Regions from separate parts of the Homo sapiens genome. Here region 1 is linked to region 2. Evidence: fine-mapped expression QTL. A gene starts in region 2. The other region holds a variant in brackets. All regions are shown on one strand. Distances are between the middles of the regions.

Region 1 (8,858 bases), 110 kb before region 2:
CTTCTGAAGGACATGAGCAGTGTATCAGAAGCTAGGGTTTATGACCAGCAGATCCTCTTCCTGGGCTTCATCCTGAGGAAACATTTCACCCAGGATGAACCCTGCATTGATAGAGCAGGGTTGGGAGAAGAGGAAGCAACCTGAGGGCCCAGAGGTAGGGAAGTGCCTATTAAACTCGGGCAGGTGTACCATGGAATGCAGGATGCCATCTGAAACGATGGCAGAAATAACTAAAACATATGTAGCACAGCTTTCTTCTATAAAGAAAAATGAGTATGCTGCATGCACACTATGTGTGTGGCCTAGAAAAGAGGCATAAACACATGTACATCAGGTGTCACATAATTTCTGGGTAGCATTTTGATGGAGTGTATATATTCTTACATAAAAAACAAAAGTGAAAGACAGCAGAATTTATTAGATATTTACGTATGTTTCTTTTCATTTGTGTTGTCCTTTTCTCTCTGAGTATGGATTGCCTTTGTAACAGAGAAATCTGTTTGGTTTGGTTTGGTTTGGTTTTCTGGTTTGGAGGCAGGGACTCGCTCTGTCACCCAGGCTGGAGTACAATGGTGCGATCATAGCTCACTGCAGCCTACAACTTCTGAGCTCAAGTGATTTTCCCACCTCAGCCTCCTGAGTAGCTGGGACTACAAGCAGGAGCTACCATGCCCAGCTCTTTTTTTTTCCCTGGAGAGACAGGGTCTTACTATATTGCCCTGGCTAATCTTAAACCCTTGGCCTCAAGCAATCCTCCCACCTCGACCTCCCAAAGTGCTGAGATTTTTTTCTCCTGGGTATCTATCATTAATTATATTTTCTTCTTTTAGGTGGCCTCCCAAAGTGAGCCACCATGCCCAAACTAGAAAAATCTTAAAAGAACTTTATCCAAACATGCCAAGTCATAAATGATGTTGATATACTTTATCCCCACAAATTCATTTTCATTCTCTTTCTCTCCTTTAAATGTAAAGTGGACTAGGGCTTTCATCTAGGAAAACGTATGTGACAATAGCATCTTCAGAAAAATCCAGCAAATGGAACAGGCTGTTCTTGCAAGGAGCAGTAACTTTCAGCCATAGTAACTTGTATTGCAAAGGAATCTGGGGCTTCTGATTGGATTTGGACCCAGAGGATGTAGAACTATTCCTTAGAGTGCACTGTGGATACCTTCTGCAGTCCCAAACCCAGGGGGTGTGGGAGGTGACAGAGGTCCAGTCACCAGCACTGTCAGCCGGCAGGACACATGGGGCTTGTAGAGAGGTGCTCAGAAGCCCACGGGTAGACTTTGCTGCTGAGACTAGCCCTTGTGGATGCAGCGCATCAACACATGCCTCATGGGTGAGGTGAGCCAGTATTCAGGGTTGAACACGTGTTCAGCGAGTCAAACTGCACACTGAGTCAGCCATGAAACAAGCGTCTAGATAGGGGATGTGGTAAGGCTCTGGCCTGGAGATGTGATTTGCAGAGACTGTCGGCGTGATCTCTCTCATTGTCTCTGTGTTGCAGCCTCCCAAAGTGAAATGCCTGACCAAGATCTGGCACCCCAACATCACAGAGACAGGGGAAATATGTCTGAGGTGAGTTTATTGTCTTTTCTTTCTTCTACATTCGTGAGTGTCATGTGCAAGCGTTGGGCTTTTAAACATGTTGTCTCCTCTGAAAAGATTTTGAGGCATGGCCAAGATTAGGAAGGGCTTGAACTCAGCTGAAGTAGCTGCGGTTGCCTGCCTGCTCCCAAACCCTACCCTACCTTCTGCCTCCAGACGAGTGTCTTCTCTTGGCCCTCTGGGGGCCACAGCCCTACTAAGTTCTTAGTGCAGCCTCCTTGCCTGCCCAGGATGGACCCTTGGAGTCCCTTGCCTTGTTCCCCTCCTATTTACATGAGAGACCACATTCCCTCCATGTGGCTGATTTTAGCTAAGATGAGAAAATATGATTAATGATAGATACCCAGGAGAAAAAATGTAGATGGCAGGCTTGAGACGACCTTGGGCACTTGTATTTAAGCTGCCCTCTCTCTACCAAAATGGTCCTGATAGATGTCAGGGCACTTAGGGCAGGCAGCCTCTCGGAGCTTCATGCCTGCTGTGACTTGTGTCCCTGATCCCTGGCATGGGCAGAACGTCAGGCATCAGTGATTTCTCCTCCTAAGGCTGCTGGAAAAGTTGTGTAGGTGGATTGGTTGGTTTTTAAAGTAAGTTTCACATTTGGGCTTTATTTTTTCTGCACTTTGTCCCTTTCATCACTTTAAGGCAGCAAGGTTGATTGCAGGGGCTTTGATATCAGACCACCTGGACCTGAGTCCAGCTCGCCGCCCCCGCCCCCACCCCTGCCCGGCTGCCCGGGGCAGCTGTGGGACTTTAGGCTAGGTATTTGAACTGTATGTGCCTCACACTCAGCCAGTTTGGAAAGTAGGCACAAAGTGTTTTCTTAGCACATTTCTCCTACTTTTGACATGAAATGCAATTAGTGGCCTAAGTCATTTCTCATGCTCAACTTCCGTATCTCTTTTCTTTCATTCCTCTCTCCTTAGTAAACACTAATCACCTTTGAAAGGAAATGTGTAAACTGTGGCTGCTGGAAATCTTACCTCAGGATCCCTTTCTCTTTTTTTTTGAGATGGAGTCTCGCTTTGTTGCCCAGGCTGGAGTGCAGTGGCGCGATCTGAGCTCACTGCAAGCTCCGCCTCCCAGGTTCACGCCATTCTCCTGCCTCAGCGTCCCGAGTAGCTGGGACTACAGGCGCCTACCACTACGCCCGGCTAATTTTTGTATTTTTTAGTAGAGACTGGGTTTCACTGTGTTAGCCAGGATGGTCTCAATCTCCTGACCTTGTGATCTGCCCGCCTCGGCCTCCTAGAGTGCTGGGGTTACAGGTGTGAGCCACCGCGCCGGGCCGGATGCCTTTCTCTTCACAAGTACAGTTAGTGCCCATTTGCCCATTTCATTTTTGTATATACTGCTCCTTCTTCAATATCAGCCTCGTTTTTCACAGATGGTTAAAAATACATTTTACCAGACATACCTTTTTAAAAAAGCATCTTCCCTTTGAAGTATCTGTCCTTTACGTATTGAAACATTAAAATTCCACTATCTTTGGTTGCAGGTTATAAATGTGTTTGGCCCAGGCCCCCACTGCCCCGCTTCCTCCTGTGCTTGTGAGGACACCTGGCTCACTTTCTGGGGGGCCATACTCTACTTCCCTGTCTTGTCCCTGCCTTAGTCAGAAATGGGTCCAGAATAGGAAGCTCTCTTGTCCCTTTTGCCGTCTTCTGGGAAGTCAGATGATTAGCAAAGCCTTATAAGGATGAACAGATGGTATCCTGATATAAAAGCCAGACGTCTTAAGGAAAAAGATTGTCAGATTTGACCATGTAAAAATTAAAAACACAAAATGGAAGAAGAAATGATCAACTGGATTAACATCCTTGGTATGTAAATAGTCCTTACTATTCATTATAAAAAAGACGGATACTTCTCTGGAAAAATGTGGCATTGGCTACAAATAGGTGATTCATAAAAGGAGAAATAGAGGTGGGCAGTAAATATCTGAGGAGATGTTCACTCTCATCAGTAACCAGAGAAAGGCGCAGAAGACCATGAAGTGTGGCTTACCACTCACCAGATTGGCAGGCACAAAGGTAGATACTTGGTGGCTGGGGGAGGAGTGTGTGACAGAGAGCGAGCAGGCTCTCTTGTTGGAGGGTGTGTGTATTTGCACACCTTTCATTGGTCCTTCAGCCACGTAGACTACCTGTAACTCGTATGTACCCTTGGACTTGTCAGCTGCACTTCTAGGGATTTAATCTAAGGAAATAATGTGCCAGATTGATGTACGGGGACCACCTTGTTAGTGAAAAGCAGACAGTGTCCAGTGGCAGCTTTATGGTGTGTCCCGAATAAAGGGAAGGAAAAGCCCAACCGCACCTCTGGTTTGTGGTGACGCTGACAGCAGCTCATCAGCCCTTCCCACAGCAGGACTGATGGGTGCCTGGGGCTCCACAGGCCTTTCAGTGCTGGCACACAGGAGCACCTTCCTCTTTTAGAGAGATTTGCCCTGGCTCCACCTTGTTGTCCCGGCAGGGACCCTTCGCCTGCTCTGGCACAAGGTCAGAGGCTCCATGTCTGTGGGATTGGAGGGCCTAGGTCAAGAGCTCAGTCAAAGCTTCTCCTAGAGTCCAAGCTTCTATTACAGTTCGTGGGGTGTCCTTTGTCTCCTTGCTTAATGACATCTCTGATAGCCAAGTGTCTCTGTCTCCTGAGCTGTTGCTGGGACTATCCTCTGTGAGGCCAGGCTAGAACTTCCTCAGTGACTGGAGGCACTGCACCCCTGATGGGCCTCACTGCTGCCCAGACCAGTGGCCACCACATGCTGGGGCCGGCCTTGCCTCCCCATTAC[C/T]TGCCCCAGCCAGATGCAAAGCCCTCCTGCTCTGGCTGTGCTGTTAACAGCAAAGCTCAGGGTGAGCTTCCTTCTCCTTCATTCAGCTAATGTTGATTGAGCTTAGGCACTGGCAGAGGAATTAGCATTCCCTGCTTTTATGGATGAAACAGGCATTCAACAAATAAATGACAAATATATAACTGAAGGTTGCATTAAGATCTATATAAGAAAATGATTAGCTAGATCAGAAATAATTCCTCCATTCAACAAAATATAGCCACTAGGATTTGACTTCATTCCCAAAAAAGTTATTCAGAAGTTGACAATTCAGATCCACAAGTCACCAATACCTCTGTAGGGTAGAAAGACGTCCACCCAGTTGGTAGGATACATGATTTGAGTTTTCCTTTTTTCTTTTTAAGGCTAAAAGTAAATTTTAATGGTCAATTTAAGGTTAGTTATCTGTTTTTTTTAACTGCTCTTCACAGACAATTAAGATTATAGCTTTGATTCAAACTCTACATATTTTTCTCCTGATCTGAATTGACTTTTGTGAATTTAAACATGCTCTAATTCAAAAAAGTTTATCAGAGGTAACAATTATGGATAAAGCCTGATATTTTATTTACAGATCAAAGCCACAGCACAATAATTCAACAAATACAAAAGTAATTTTATCTCCAGAAGGAAGCTTGGCAATAAATTATACTTTTTTCAAAGTATGGAATGATCATTTAATCCTTTTAAAATTATTTAAAATTTTTTTTTTACTTTTTAAGATTATTGGGAAAATGCTAATCTTCTCTGTATCATCCCAATTTGAGCATATGTGCTGCGGAAGTGAGCACTGGAATGATCATTTCCATGAGAGTATATGGTGTGCCTTTACAGCTGATAGACAGTAATGACCAGGACTCTCAGGTACCAGCTTCAGAAACAGGGCTTCATCAGACCTCTGAATCCTGGTGTGCCTTCCCTGAGCATGGGCCCCCCACCTAAGGAGTGATTGATACTCAGAATTTTGCATTAATCTTTTATCCTCAAGCTTTTTCTTTTGAACTTTAAAAAAATAAAAAAAAAAACCCAGTTACGGCTGGGCGTGGTGGCTCACGCCTGTAATCCCAGCACTTTGGGAGGCCGAGGCGGGCGGATCACGAGGTCAGGAGATCGAGACCATCCTGGTTAACACGGTGAAACCCCGTCTCTACTAAAAATTCAAAAAACAAAATTAGCCGGGCGTAGGTGGTGCATGCCTTGTAGTCCCAGCTACTCAGGAGGCTGAGGCAGGAGAATGGCGTAAAACCGGAGAGGTGGAGCTTACAGTGAGCCGAGATCGTGCCACTGCACTCCAGCCTGGGAGACAGAGAGAGACTCCGTCTCAAAAAAAAAAAAAAAAACCCAGTTATTAAAATGTCATATGCTGGGAGCTCCCATTGTTGTTAACCTGCATCAGCAGTGTTTCAGAATGTCGGTGCCCGTGAGCTGCCTGGGTTGGAAGAACAACATTGTTCATGAGGCGTGTGCCCTTGGGCGTGTCTTCTCTGTGCCTTGGTTTCCTCCTGTATAAGACAGGGAAACAGGGATGCTCTCTTCACGGGTGGTTATAGGCATTAAGTGAATTTAATGGCACAGCACCTAGGATTGTGCCTGACATACACATAATAAGCTCTAAGCTTCAGTTACTCCTGTTGTCATGTTGTCATTTTGTTGCCATTGTCATTTTCTTTCTTTCTTTCTTTTTTTTTTTTTGAGACAGGGCCTCACACTATTCCCAGGCTGGAGTACAGGGGCGCCATCACAGCTCACTGCAGCCTTGAACTTCTGGACTCAAGCAGTCCTCCACCTTTGGGAGTACAGGCGTGCACCACTATGCCTGGCTAATTTTTAATTTTTAGTAGAGACAGGGTATCACTGTGTTGCCCAGGCTGGTCTCAAACTCCTGGACCCAAGCTATCTTCCCACCTTGCCTCGGCCTCCCAGAATGCTGAGATTACAGGCATGAGCCACCATACCCAGCCACCATTGTCATTTTCTGAATATTAAATTGACAAATGTTCTTTGTGTGTTGTTTTAAACATGCTCTTCCTCAGCCTAAAACTTCCATGTCAAGTATTACAACAAATAGATAAACATAACACAAGACGTTATAATTGAATATGTATATAACCTTGGAGGTGGAAATGCCTTCCTCAGCAAGAGAAAACTGAGAAGCCACAGAGGAAAAGATGGGTTTAATAAAAAGTAGAGCTCCTGCATGGCACACACCGAGAGGACTAGTTGGCAGCGTGCAGGGCACCTGTGGCTGCTCCTCACTAACCACTGTGTGTTTGTCTTTTTCAGTTTATTGAGAGAACATTCAATTGATGGCACTGGCTGGGCTCCCACAAGAACATTAAAGGTAGAGTCTGTGCCTTGATCTTGATCATAAGTTGTCCCTGTGGTCCTCTCCCTGCAGTAGCCAGCCTCCCGAGAAAGCAGCACATGTCCTTGCCTGTCACATCCACACCAGTGGCCGGACACACCCTGCCTCCTCTTCTCCCTGCTGCCTAGGCTACTTAGCCAGTCACTGACCTCGGTCAGTTTGGGCCGGATGAGCATCCTTGTTGACTTTGCCAGGCACCATTCTAGAACCAGAGATAGGAGCCCAAACTGCAGGCTTCACAGCCAAACCACCCGCCACATAGGAAACCTCATGGCCATCATTCATTCAACAGGGATGTCTTGAGCTTTTCTGGCCACTAGGTGTTGGAGGAGGAGCAGCAAATTGATGTGCAAACCACTCCCTATGGCCAGAGAAGACTGTCAGGTGTTGGGTACCTAACATCAGGCAGGGACCCTAGGGGAACAGCACAGGAAGGGGCTTTTGGCCCTGGCCCTGCATAAGGGAACACTGCAGACTGCATGCAGTCCTGACCCAGCTCCTCCGAGCTGTAGTCTCTGCCACCATGGGCAGCCCACCCAGCCTTTTCTTAGCCTCTCCCCACGCTCTAGAAATGTCCTGCCCTCTCAGAACTTTCCCTCTGCAGGTCGTGCCTCTACCTGGAAGGCGGCCCTCTCCTCCAGCCCTCTCCCTGGCAGACTCCTGCTCCCCTGGGGCTCAGATGGCTGTCATTGCCTCTGGAGCCTCTCCTCCCAGGGTGGGTGCTCTGGGGAACACGTCTCATGAACAGTGCTGGCCTGCTGACCTGCCCATCTGTACATCCCCCTTCCTCAGGCTGAGGGCTCACCTTCACCCACACTCCAACCCTAGGCCTGGCTCACATCGGAAGGTCAGGGATGGGTGGGTGGATGGATTGATGGACTAGAGAAAACAGAGAAAGGCAAATAAAATTACCAACTAGCAAAAAGTAGGGGAGGAGCATGAGAACAGGCCTAAAAAGGACGAAACTCTTGAGTTGATGAAGAGGAAAATGGAGAATGAATTTGTGATTCACAGATGGCAGGTCAGTACAGATAGAACAACTCTGGCTTTCAGTTTTATTTAATGAAAATCTCTGATCCTTGAATTGTGAATCTTCTATGATTCTTTAAATAACTAATGCAAAATCATTAAGAAAACTTAATAGGATGAGGGGTAATTAACTTATCTACGACCGCAAGAGGCAGTAGATGTAAAAACAACAGACTTTATTTTGAAGGTGACTTTTTAGAAGTCAGAACCATATTTGGTGGTAACAAGTAAGAGGTGATTTAAGGTGGAGCCCCTATGCAGACACTGGCCTGCGGGCCCTGTCGTGCAGGATTGGGCTTGTCAGGTCTGACTGGGAGGGTGTCTGATGCTATCTTTGATTTTATATTCACTACCTGAGACTGCTCATATCTTTGAATTTTCCAGAGTTTGTTGTTACACTTGAAGAGAAGTTATTTTAATTTTCTATCTTGAGAAAAACAAACCATGCTAAAGACAGGTTTTGATACAGTGCAAAGCATATTTCTTGATCATGGGTTTAAAAGACTAGGTGCACTTTGGCTTAAAACTTGTTTTCTGTTTTCTTTTTTATTTCAGGATGTCGTTTGGGGATTAAACTCTTTGTTTACTGTAAGTACAGTGATCAAAATCCCAAGTTATTCTCAATTTCCTTGTTGCTGGTTTTAGACATTGCGTTAAGACATGGTTTTAACACAAAACCATGTTAAAAAATGAAACATGGACTGGGCACAGTGGCTCACGCCTGTAATCCTAGCACTTTGGGTGGATCCCCACTTGAGTCCAGGAGGCCCAAACCCCATCTCTACAAAAAATAGAAAAATTAGTTGGGCATAGTGGCACATGTCTGTAGTCCCAGCTGCTTGGAAGGCTGAGGTGGGAGAATTGCTTGAGCCCAGGAGGCAGAGGTTGCAGTGAGCTGAGATTGCACCACTGTACTCCAGCCTGGGCGACAGAGACTCTGCCTCAAAAAACAGATACACACAAAAACCCCCCAAAAACATGCTGGCTGGGCATGGTGGCTCACACCTGTAATCCTAGCACGTTG
Region 2 (8,858 bases):
TCATTTTCTTTTCTTTCTTTCTCTTTTTCTTTTCTTTTCTGTAGATTCAGTGGCTGAATCTACAGGTGTCAGCCACCATGCCCAGCTAATTTCTTTTTATTTTTTGTAGGGACAAAGTCTTGCTATGTTGCCCAGGCTGGTCTTGAACTCCTGGGCTCAAGCAGTCTGCGCGCCTCAGCCTCTCAAAGTGCTGGGATTACAGGTGTTTCTGAGCTGCTTCTAACGAGCAGGGCACTGGGAGCAGCCAGGAGCATCCTGAACGCTGCCTCTCAGTCAGTGGGGCCCTGGCTCTTGGCCACAACACGCCCCCAGTGGAGACAGAGCAGGGCTGCTCCACCCAGTGCGGTCACTGCCCAGGGCTGGCAGAGGGCAAGGGGCAGCAGGTGGGTCTAGGGAGAGCCCTTGGCTGGGGGCATCAGAAGGTTTGGGCGCTGCAGTGTCTCCTGAGATCCCCTCATGCACCAGCTGCTGGCAATGTTGTTCTGAGGGCCCTGACAGAGGAGGGGGCTGGAGGCAGGGGCAGCAGGCCTCAGGTCACTCCCTGGCCGAGGGTGCTCAAGAGAGAGCACTGGGCAGGGAGTCGGCCCTCCTGGCTCCGGCTGTCCCTGCCCACTCGCTATGCCCTTGGGCAAGTCCTCCATAGCCTCCAGGCCTCAGTTTCCCAGCTGAGGAGCTGGATCAAGGCCAGCAGGGGACACACACATCAGGGGTCCCAGGAGAGCCTGGGGTGGGATGAGCCAGGCGAGGGGTGAGATGTGGCTCAGATCCAGGCTAGGCCCCTGGAGTGCTGCTGGGGTGACCCCTAAATGACCTTCTGCCAACACCCTGCCTCTGGGGGAGCTGCCCCAGGGATTCTGATTCCCTTGGCCTGGGGTAGGTCTGGAAAGCTGGGGTTTTAACACATTCCAGGCGGCTCCGATTCCCAGCAGCTGGCACCCGTGGCCCACCAGCAGCTCACCTGTGGGAAGCACGTGTCCCCGGGGGCAGGCAGGCACTGGCCCCTGCGCCACCACACTCACAGCTGTAGGGCCCATTTGGTGCCTATAAATCTGTTGTTCAATTGACAAAAGACTCACTGAGGACCAGAGACGGAATCTACAGCACCCCGGAGGTGCCGATGTCAGTGAGGTGGTCACACGCAAAGCAAAGGCGCAAAGCCTGGGGGCTTCCCATGAGTCAGAAACATCCAGGAGAAAGGGAGCCCCGTGTCCCCAGTCCATAGATGGCAGGATGGAGATGTGGAAAAACAGAAACCCTCCCCAAGGGCGGTGCTGGAACCCCAGCTTCTCCCTCGCAGCTGGGTCAATGTGCAGAGGGGCGGGCTCCCTGCATGTCGGTGCACAGGCTTAATGCAAAGCCCAGCTCATTTAAAAATTCAATGTCGGCCGGGTGCGGTGGCTCACGCCTGTAATCCCAGCACTTTGGGAGGCTGAGGCAGGTGGATCACGAGGTCAAGAGATCAAGATCATCCTCGCCGACATGGTGAAACCCCGTCTCTACTAAAAACACAAAAATTAGCTGGGCGTGGTGGCGGGCACCTGTAATCCCAGCTACTCGGGAAGCTGAGGCAGAATTGCTCGAACCTGGGAGGCAGAGGTTGTAGTGAGCCGAGCTCATGCCACTGCACTCCAGCCTGGGTGACAGAGCAAGACTCTGTCTCAAAAACAAAAAAGATTTTCAATTTCATCTCAATAGGATGACGTTGCTCTTTGTGAAGCTGGGAGTGATAACCTCCTTCTGTTCGTGGACGCTCAGGCTGTTTTCCATTTGGGACTATTACAATGAAGGTGGTGTCACCTGTGTGATTATTCCCTCAGAATGGATTCCGAGCGTGAAATCACCGAGTTAAAATCTGTAAGGCCGGGTGCAGTGGCTCACGCCTGTAATCCCAGCACTCTGGGAGGCCAAGGCAGGCAGATCACTTGAGGTCAGGAGACCATCCTGGCCAACATGGTGAAACCCCATCCCTACTAAGAATACAGAAAAATTAGCTGGGCATGGTGGTGCATACCTGTAATCCCAGCTACTCAGGAGGCTGAGGCAGGAGAATCGCTTGAACCCAGGAGGCGGAGGTTGCCGTGAGCGGAGATTGCACCACTGCACTCCAACCTGGGTGATAAAGCGAGACTCCATCTCCAAAGAGACAAACAAACAAACAAACAAAAAACTGTGTGAGTGAGCTCCCCTCTGCTGGGCTGGGGGCCTTCCAGCTGTGAGGATGTCCCAGGCTGGGTCCGCATATCAGTCTGCCCCCTTCTCGGGGGCCTTACAGCCCTGCACAGCACCTCTCACTCCATCTGGGGTGATTTGGGGCCTGGGTTCCATCGGGCTGACCTTGTTTCCCTTTCACCAGCACTCTCACACGTCAGACGGCCCCTCCTTCCCTGCGGACTTGCCGTGGCACCGCTTTCTGTGCATTGGCTGTTGGGATTTGTTTATTCTTGGGTCAAAACCACCTTGTTTGATGGCATTTTACGCTGTAATGATGACATCTTCGTATCTGAGATGGAAGCCCCCCATTGCTCTGCTGTTTACATGTTTTTGTCTGCTGTACTAGTGACCTAGTGCTGCATAGTCAACTGCCTGAAATCCAATGTCCTTGAACAGCACACACGCATGGTCACACGCATCGTCTCTCAGTTTCTCCTCGGGAGCACGTGTGTGGGGTGGCTGCACCTCAGGATGTCTCAGGAGGGTCCCATGAAGTGCTCAGCCCAACTGCAGTCATCGGAAGCCTGGCCTGGGGCGGGAGGGTCTGCGGGCTGGGACTATAGGTGTGCACCGCCACTACTCCTGGCTAATTGTTGTGTTTTTAGTAGAGATGGGGTTTCACTATGTCGGCCAGGCTGATCTCAAACTCCTGACCTCAGGTGATCCACCCGCCTCAGCCTCCCAAAGTGCTGGGATTACAGGCATGAGCCACCATGCCCGGCAGAAATTCAAAATCTTCAAGTGCTGATCCCATCAGAAACGCCCACAATATAACAAGGTGTGAGGAAAGGGCGCTGACCCACACACGCAGGCAGGCTCATTTTGACAACAGGAAAGAGCTGGAAGCATACTAATGGCAAATGATCTTTTACTAATGACACTTTCTGCTTTTTATTTTTCTGTTTTCCAAAAGGAACTTGTGTTATTTTTATCCTCATAAAAAGAAACAAGTGGTGTATTTTTAAAAACTGCGCCACTCAGTAGCAATCTCTTGATGGAGGATCTGTTTTGCGCCCCCGGTGTTGAGTTTCCCAGACTGACCTGTCATCTGAGGTGCTGGGGCTCCGAGCCCCACGACGGCTGCTGTGAGGCCTCCACACTTGGCAAGCAGTGCTGTTCCCCGAGCAGAGCCAGCTCCCCGTGACAGCAGCCTGTCATCAGAATCCCCTGTCCTCATTTCCTCCAGCCCGAGCCAGGACTGCAAACAAGGGGGACAGTACGGAAACCCAACACTCTAGCGCCCACCCCATAGTGGTCCTGGACACAGCGAGAGTTGGGGTCCTCCATGAGGGTCCCCCACACAACATGAGGCTGATGCCCAAGGCTGGGGAAAAACCCTGGGACAGTGTGGGACACGAGCAGGGGAAAGAGCAGGAGCAGGGGCCAGGCTGGGCTGGGCTACGGCTGGGCTACGGCTGGACTATGGCTGAGCTGGGCTGGGCTATGGCTGGGCTATGGCTGGGCAATAGCTGAGCTGGACTGGGCTATGGCTGGGCTATGGTTGGGCAATAGCTGAGCTGGACTGGGCTATGGCTGGGCTATGGTTGGGCAATAGCTGAGCTGGGCTGGGCTATGGCTGGGCTATGGTTGGGCAATAGCTGAGCTGGGCTGAGCTATGGCTGGGCTATGGCTGGGCCAGGCTGGGCTGTAGAGGAAGCATGGACTCAGGGAATCTCTATGGAAGGTAACCCTAAGGGCACCTTGCAGACTTGGCAGTAATTTGTAGGTGAGCTTCCCCTCCATAGGCTGTGTGCATCTCAGGACCAGGAGTGGGGTTCTGTCTCCCTGGGGGCCGCCTGGACCTCTCTGGTCTGTAAGAGCATTAGGACAATCCCTAGTAGCATCAAGAGGCCACAGCCAGACCCAATACTCCCCAGTTCCTCCAGGTCGCAGCACACCTGGAAATGGTCATACTGCTCAGGCCCACATGGCCGATGGGTAGAGGGCTGAGGGCTGAGGGCTTCTCTCCCATGCACCTGAAGTCCCTCAGCCACAAAGCTCTGCTCTGGTCACTGGTGTGAGAAATGTCCAGTGGCCTCTTGGGTCCCCAACTCAACCCACCTGACCTTGGTCAGGGCCTGTGGTTCTGAGCCCATTTCAGTCCCAGGCGTGAGAGCTTCCCCCTGCGACTACCGTGAACCAAGTGCTGGACGGGAGGCTGATAGTCCACTGCTGTATTTTTAGGTGACCCTGTTTCTTAGCCGTCCTGGGCAGCCCCGAGGCCAAGGCCATGGGGTAGCAGGGCAAGGAGCCCCAAGATCTCCCCTATCCACGCTAGCTGGGCGGGGCAACTGAGTGTGGCACCTCCCCTCTCTGGGCAAAGTTTCCCTACCGCCACCATGGACCCCAAGCTCGGAAAGCCTCTGCTGACCAACCTGTGCTTATTCATGATAATCACGTTTTCCCACGTGACAACAGAACAAGAGGACACATAGGTGCCGCTGACATCAACAGCGAGGGCAGCACCTGTCGGTGTCCTGGCCCTGGGCTGAGGGTCTCTGTGACCCCAGGCCCCCACCACGGGCTCCACTGTACTCAACTTGTAGACGAGGAAACAGGTGGGGAAGCTGCATCCCTGCCCCCACCAGCCAGCCCAACCGCGACAGCTTTCACCTGTCCTTGCCCTGGAGCCCTTCCTGATGTCTGTCCTAGGCCACAAGTCCCTGGAAGGCCTCAGTGGGCTTTCTGAGCTAACAGTCACCAAGGAGCCGGCATCTCACTCCTTCCCCCACCAGCCCAGCCCTCACTGCCTGACCCTCCCCTCGCCCTGCAGACAGAGGCTAAAAATACCCTCCCCACGTGGCCACCAGACCAGCCCTGCCCCGCCCTGCAGGCCTCCGTGTCCCCTGGCTGCCGGCTAGGCAGTCCTGCTCTCTCGGGTCTGTGTTCTCAGCTTCGAGGTCCAGGCTGAGTGAGAGGTAGGATCCAGGGGGCTCTGGGGCAGGGGACAGCAGAGAGGGCAGGGGGAACCCAGCCAGGAGCAGCGGGGAGGGTGGGTTAGGCCCCCGAGGCCAGGGATCACAGCAGGGTGCTTTGGAGACGCCCCCTGGCCCTTGCCAGCGGCCAAGCCAGGCTCCTCAGGGTGGGGGCTCAGGAGACAGGTTTCCCTCCATGTCCCAGCCGGAGAGGTGGGAGGGGGAGGCTGGGCCACCCCTCAGATGGCAGCCAGGGCCACTCAGCCACAGTCGCCAGCCTGGCTGGGCTCAGGCCTTTTGTTGTCCTGCCCACTCGGCTTCCTCACTCCGGGCCTGGGCAGGCACTGGGGTGAGGCTCTGAGACCCTCAGGAAGCCCCGACCCATGCAGGGACTGCAGGGTGACAGGTGTCAGCAGGCACCCCGAGGCCCCCAGGGGAAGTGGGGGCGCTCATGCGTGCCTGCCCATCGCCCGGCAGCAGCTGGCCCAAGGGAGCACAACAATGACGGGAATGTGAGGCCTGCAGGCGGTGGCCCAGGGACAGCCCTGTCACCTACTCAGGCCCCAGCTCATCTCCCGGCTGCCCAGGGAGGGCAGAGCCGCCTTCACCGGGGCCAGCGCCTCCTGGGGAGGGGCCAGGCAGGAACCCCATGCATGCAGTGTTGGGTGGGTACTTCGTGTACCGGCCGGGATGCTGGGGTGTGGGGCCCCGGCCACGTGAGCTGCCCTGTGCGCGAGCCCGGGTTGGTCCGCGAGGCCCTGTGGGCTCCCAGGTGCTTCCCCGCTCTGGGGTCAAGAGGTGGCACCGGGGTCGGGAAGTCGGGGAGCCCTAGCTCCCATCGCCTGCACCTGTACCTGCACCGTGGCTGCCCGGGCCAGATTCTTGGCCTCCTGGTTCTCCAGCTGAGCTTTGTCATTTCCATGCGTGGCGTTCCCACGCATTTTGTACCTGTGGACGCGCGGCCGCCTCTCCTGCCCGGGATGGCCCCGCGAGGCGCCCCCTAGCGGGCGAACGGCCTCTCCGCTGCGCAGCCTTTCGCCCTGGGGTGACCCGGGTCGAAGGCTTGTGCACAGACTTGATCTCTCCTAGGGATGGTTGTCTTAGGGTGCGATACCAGAAGGACATAAACCACATGCACATAATTACATGAGCCTGAAAGCGGCCTTGCTGACTTCAACCATGCGGGCGTGGTGACGCGAAACCCTCCAGAACGCTGCCTTTGGCTGGCCGTTTCTGTTTAGCAGCCTCCACCCGGCCACGTGGAATGCAGGGTTCAGAGCCTGGGCCCCCAAGCCTAGCTCTGAGTTCAAATTCCAGCTCCACCACTTCCTAAATGTGTGATCTTGGGCAAGTGACTGAAACCTTCTGTGCCTCAGTCTCCCCAGCTGTAAAAGAGGCAATGATTGCACCCACCCTCCAGGACTGTTGTGGGGCTGAGTGGTGAATGCACAGCTTCTCTGCATGCTTGGCACGTGGCCTGGCACCTGGGAGCACCGCGGGAGCAGGAGCTGCTGCAGCCCCCAAATGGCCTCCCCAGCAATGTGGGATCTGGGACGGAGGACGCCTCCCGGGAGTTTGGGTGTCTCCGGGGTCCCTGGGGGGTGGGCTCAGTGTAGCCCAGGGTTGCAGATGACACCCAGGGCATGGGTTCTTTTGCCAACCCTGTTCTGCCCTGAATGCCTGGCCATGGGTAGGTCTCCCACCCTCTCTGAACCTCAATTTCCTCACTGCAAATGGGAATGACACCTGCCCTACCTTGCAGGGTTCTGGGGGTGGCTTGAGGCAGATGGGGGGTAAAGTGACTGGCATATGGTCGATGCCCATCCTGTGTTTATCAAGGGGTGGAAAGGGCTGATGGACAGACCGGGTGGGTTGCTCAGGAGGATGAGACCATCCCCACTTGGCTGACCCTGCTCTCTTCTCTCCTAGGAGCTCGGGCGGCTCCAGGCACTTCTTCCCTTGAGTGGGTGGACTACTGAGGTCCCCTGGGCACGGCGTCATGGTGCGGAACGTGGATGACCTGGATTTCCACCTGCCCTCGCATGCCCAGGACATGCTGGATGGCCTGCAGCGCCTGCGCTCTCAGCCCAAGCTGGCCGACGTCACACTGCTGGTGGGCGGCCGGGAGCTGCCATGCCACCGCGGCCTCCTGGCGCTCAGCAGCCCCTACTTCCATGCCATGTTTGCGGGTGACTTCGCCGAGAGCTTCTCTGCGCGCGTGGAGCTGCGGGACGTGGAGCCCGCCGTGGTGGGACAACTGGTGGACTTCGTGTACACAGGCCGGCTGACCATCACGCAGGGCAACGTGGAGGCGCTGACACGCACGGCTGCGCGCCTGCACTTCCCCTCGGTGCAGAAGGTCTGCGGCCGCTACCTGCAGCAGCAACTGGATGCCGCCAACTGCCTGGGCATCTGTGAGTTCGGGGAGCAGCAAGGGCTGCTGGGCGTGGCTGCCAAGGCCTGGGCCTTCCTGCGAGAGAACTTTGAGGCTGTGGCACGTGAGGACGAGTTCCTGCAGCTTCCCCGAGAGCGGCTGGTCACTTGTCTGGCCGGCGACCTGCTGCAGGTACAGCCGGAGCAAAGCCGACTCGAGGCCCTGATGCGCTGGGTGCGCCATGACCCGCAGGCCCGGGCCGCCCACCTGCCCGAGCTGCTCAGCCTAGTGCACCTGGACGCCGTGCCCAGGCCCTGCGTGCAGCAACTGCTGGCCTCAGAGCCCCTGATCCAGGAGTCAGAGGCATGCCGGGCAGCCCTGTCCCAGGGCCATGATGGGGTGAGTGAGCGGCTGGGAGGCCCCATCCCTGGGAAGCAGGGAGGAGAGCCCCAGAGACCCCACCTGAGTAGGGACAGAGTAAGGAGTGGACATTCCAAGGTGCACTCTGACCTTGCCACGCTCCTTGTTTTGGGCCAGTTCCCCATGAGGACATCACTATTCAGCCCTCAAGTGCAGATCATGCCTCTGTGTGTGTCACGCCCTGTGTGCAAGGGGCAGGGGAATGTGGAAGTGGTAAGATCTGGCCCTGTCCTGAAGGAGCCTGCAGCTCAGTGGGACAAGCCTGGAAACAGACCTCAGGCAGTGTGGAAGGGCCAAATACATGCCTAGGACGCATTCTGGGTGGGCTGGCAGTCAAGGAGGGCTCTCTGGAGGAGGCAGCATCTGAGCTGGGCCTTAGAGGAGGGATAGGAGCTCACAAGGAGGAAAAGAGGGGAAAACCATCCAGGAAGGAGGTGCAGCTTGTGCACAGGCAAGGAGGCACAGACAGGCCTGGCAGTCCGCCTGAGCTTTTATGGGGTGCTACTTCCTGTTTGTGCTGGCAGTGTGCCTGGCAGGCATGGCAGGTCATGATGGAATGACAGGTCTGGGAGTGGCTGTTCGGTCAGCTGCCGGGCACCCTGCTCAGGGGCCTTGCTTCGGGGCACTCCTTTAGAGCCAAGTCCGGGGACAAAGAGTGGCTCAGACTGATGGTCCTCAGGCCAAGGGTGGAGTGAGTAGTGGGCTAAACCCTAACCCCTGTCCCCACTGGATTCCAGCCAGTCACAGAGCGCCCGGCCTCCTGCTGGAGCTGGCTTCAGAGCCTTGCCCGTGGACGGTCACCTTGTATTCTAATTCCTGGCAGTGGGAGATCTGGGGGTTCCATATGGGGGGCCAGGGTGGATGGCTGTGGGAGAGCCTGGGGTCCTGGGAGACCTAGGCAGTGACTGCTTACCGGCCGTTCCTAAGACAGCCAGCAT

Evidence for each region. PIP is the estimated chance that this variant, and not a neighbour inherited with it, causes the effect.
Region 1: its variant is fine-mapped to the expression of KLHL30 in whole blood (TOPMed, PIP 0.92).

What each region holds. Positions count from the first base shown.
Region 1 is chr2:238,023,833-238,032,690 of GRCh38, forward strand. It overlaps UBE2F (ubiquitin conjugating enzyme E2 F (putative)), which reads left to right. Exons shown (of 10, transcript NM_080678.3): 6 at 1,510-1,580; 7 at 6,724-6,781; 8 at 8,390-8,422. It overlaps UBE2F-SCLY (UBE2F-SCLY readthrough (NMD candidate)), which reads left to right. Exons shown (of 19, transcript NR_037904.1): 5 at 6,724-6,781; 6 at 8,390-8,422. It also overlaps the pseudogene RNU6-1333P. Among named protein-coding and RNA genes, the nearest start is that of SCLY, 33 kb to the right of the region's middle. RefSeq lists an enhancer at 4,266-4,879. The variant C/T (reference allele first, on the strand shown) is at 4,402.
Region 2 is chr2:238,133,630-238,142,487 of GRCh38, forward strand. KLHL30 (kelch like family member 30) reads left to right here and starts at 5,039. Exons shown (of 8, transcript NM_198582.4): 1 at 5,039-5,129; 2 at 7,056-7,899. The coding sequence starts at 7,126. RefSeq lists an enhancer at 7,295-7,808.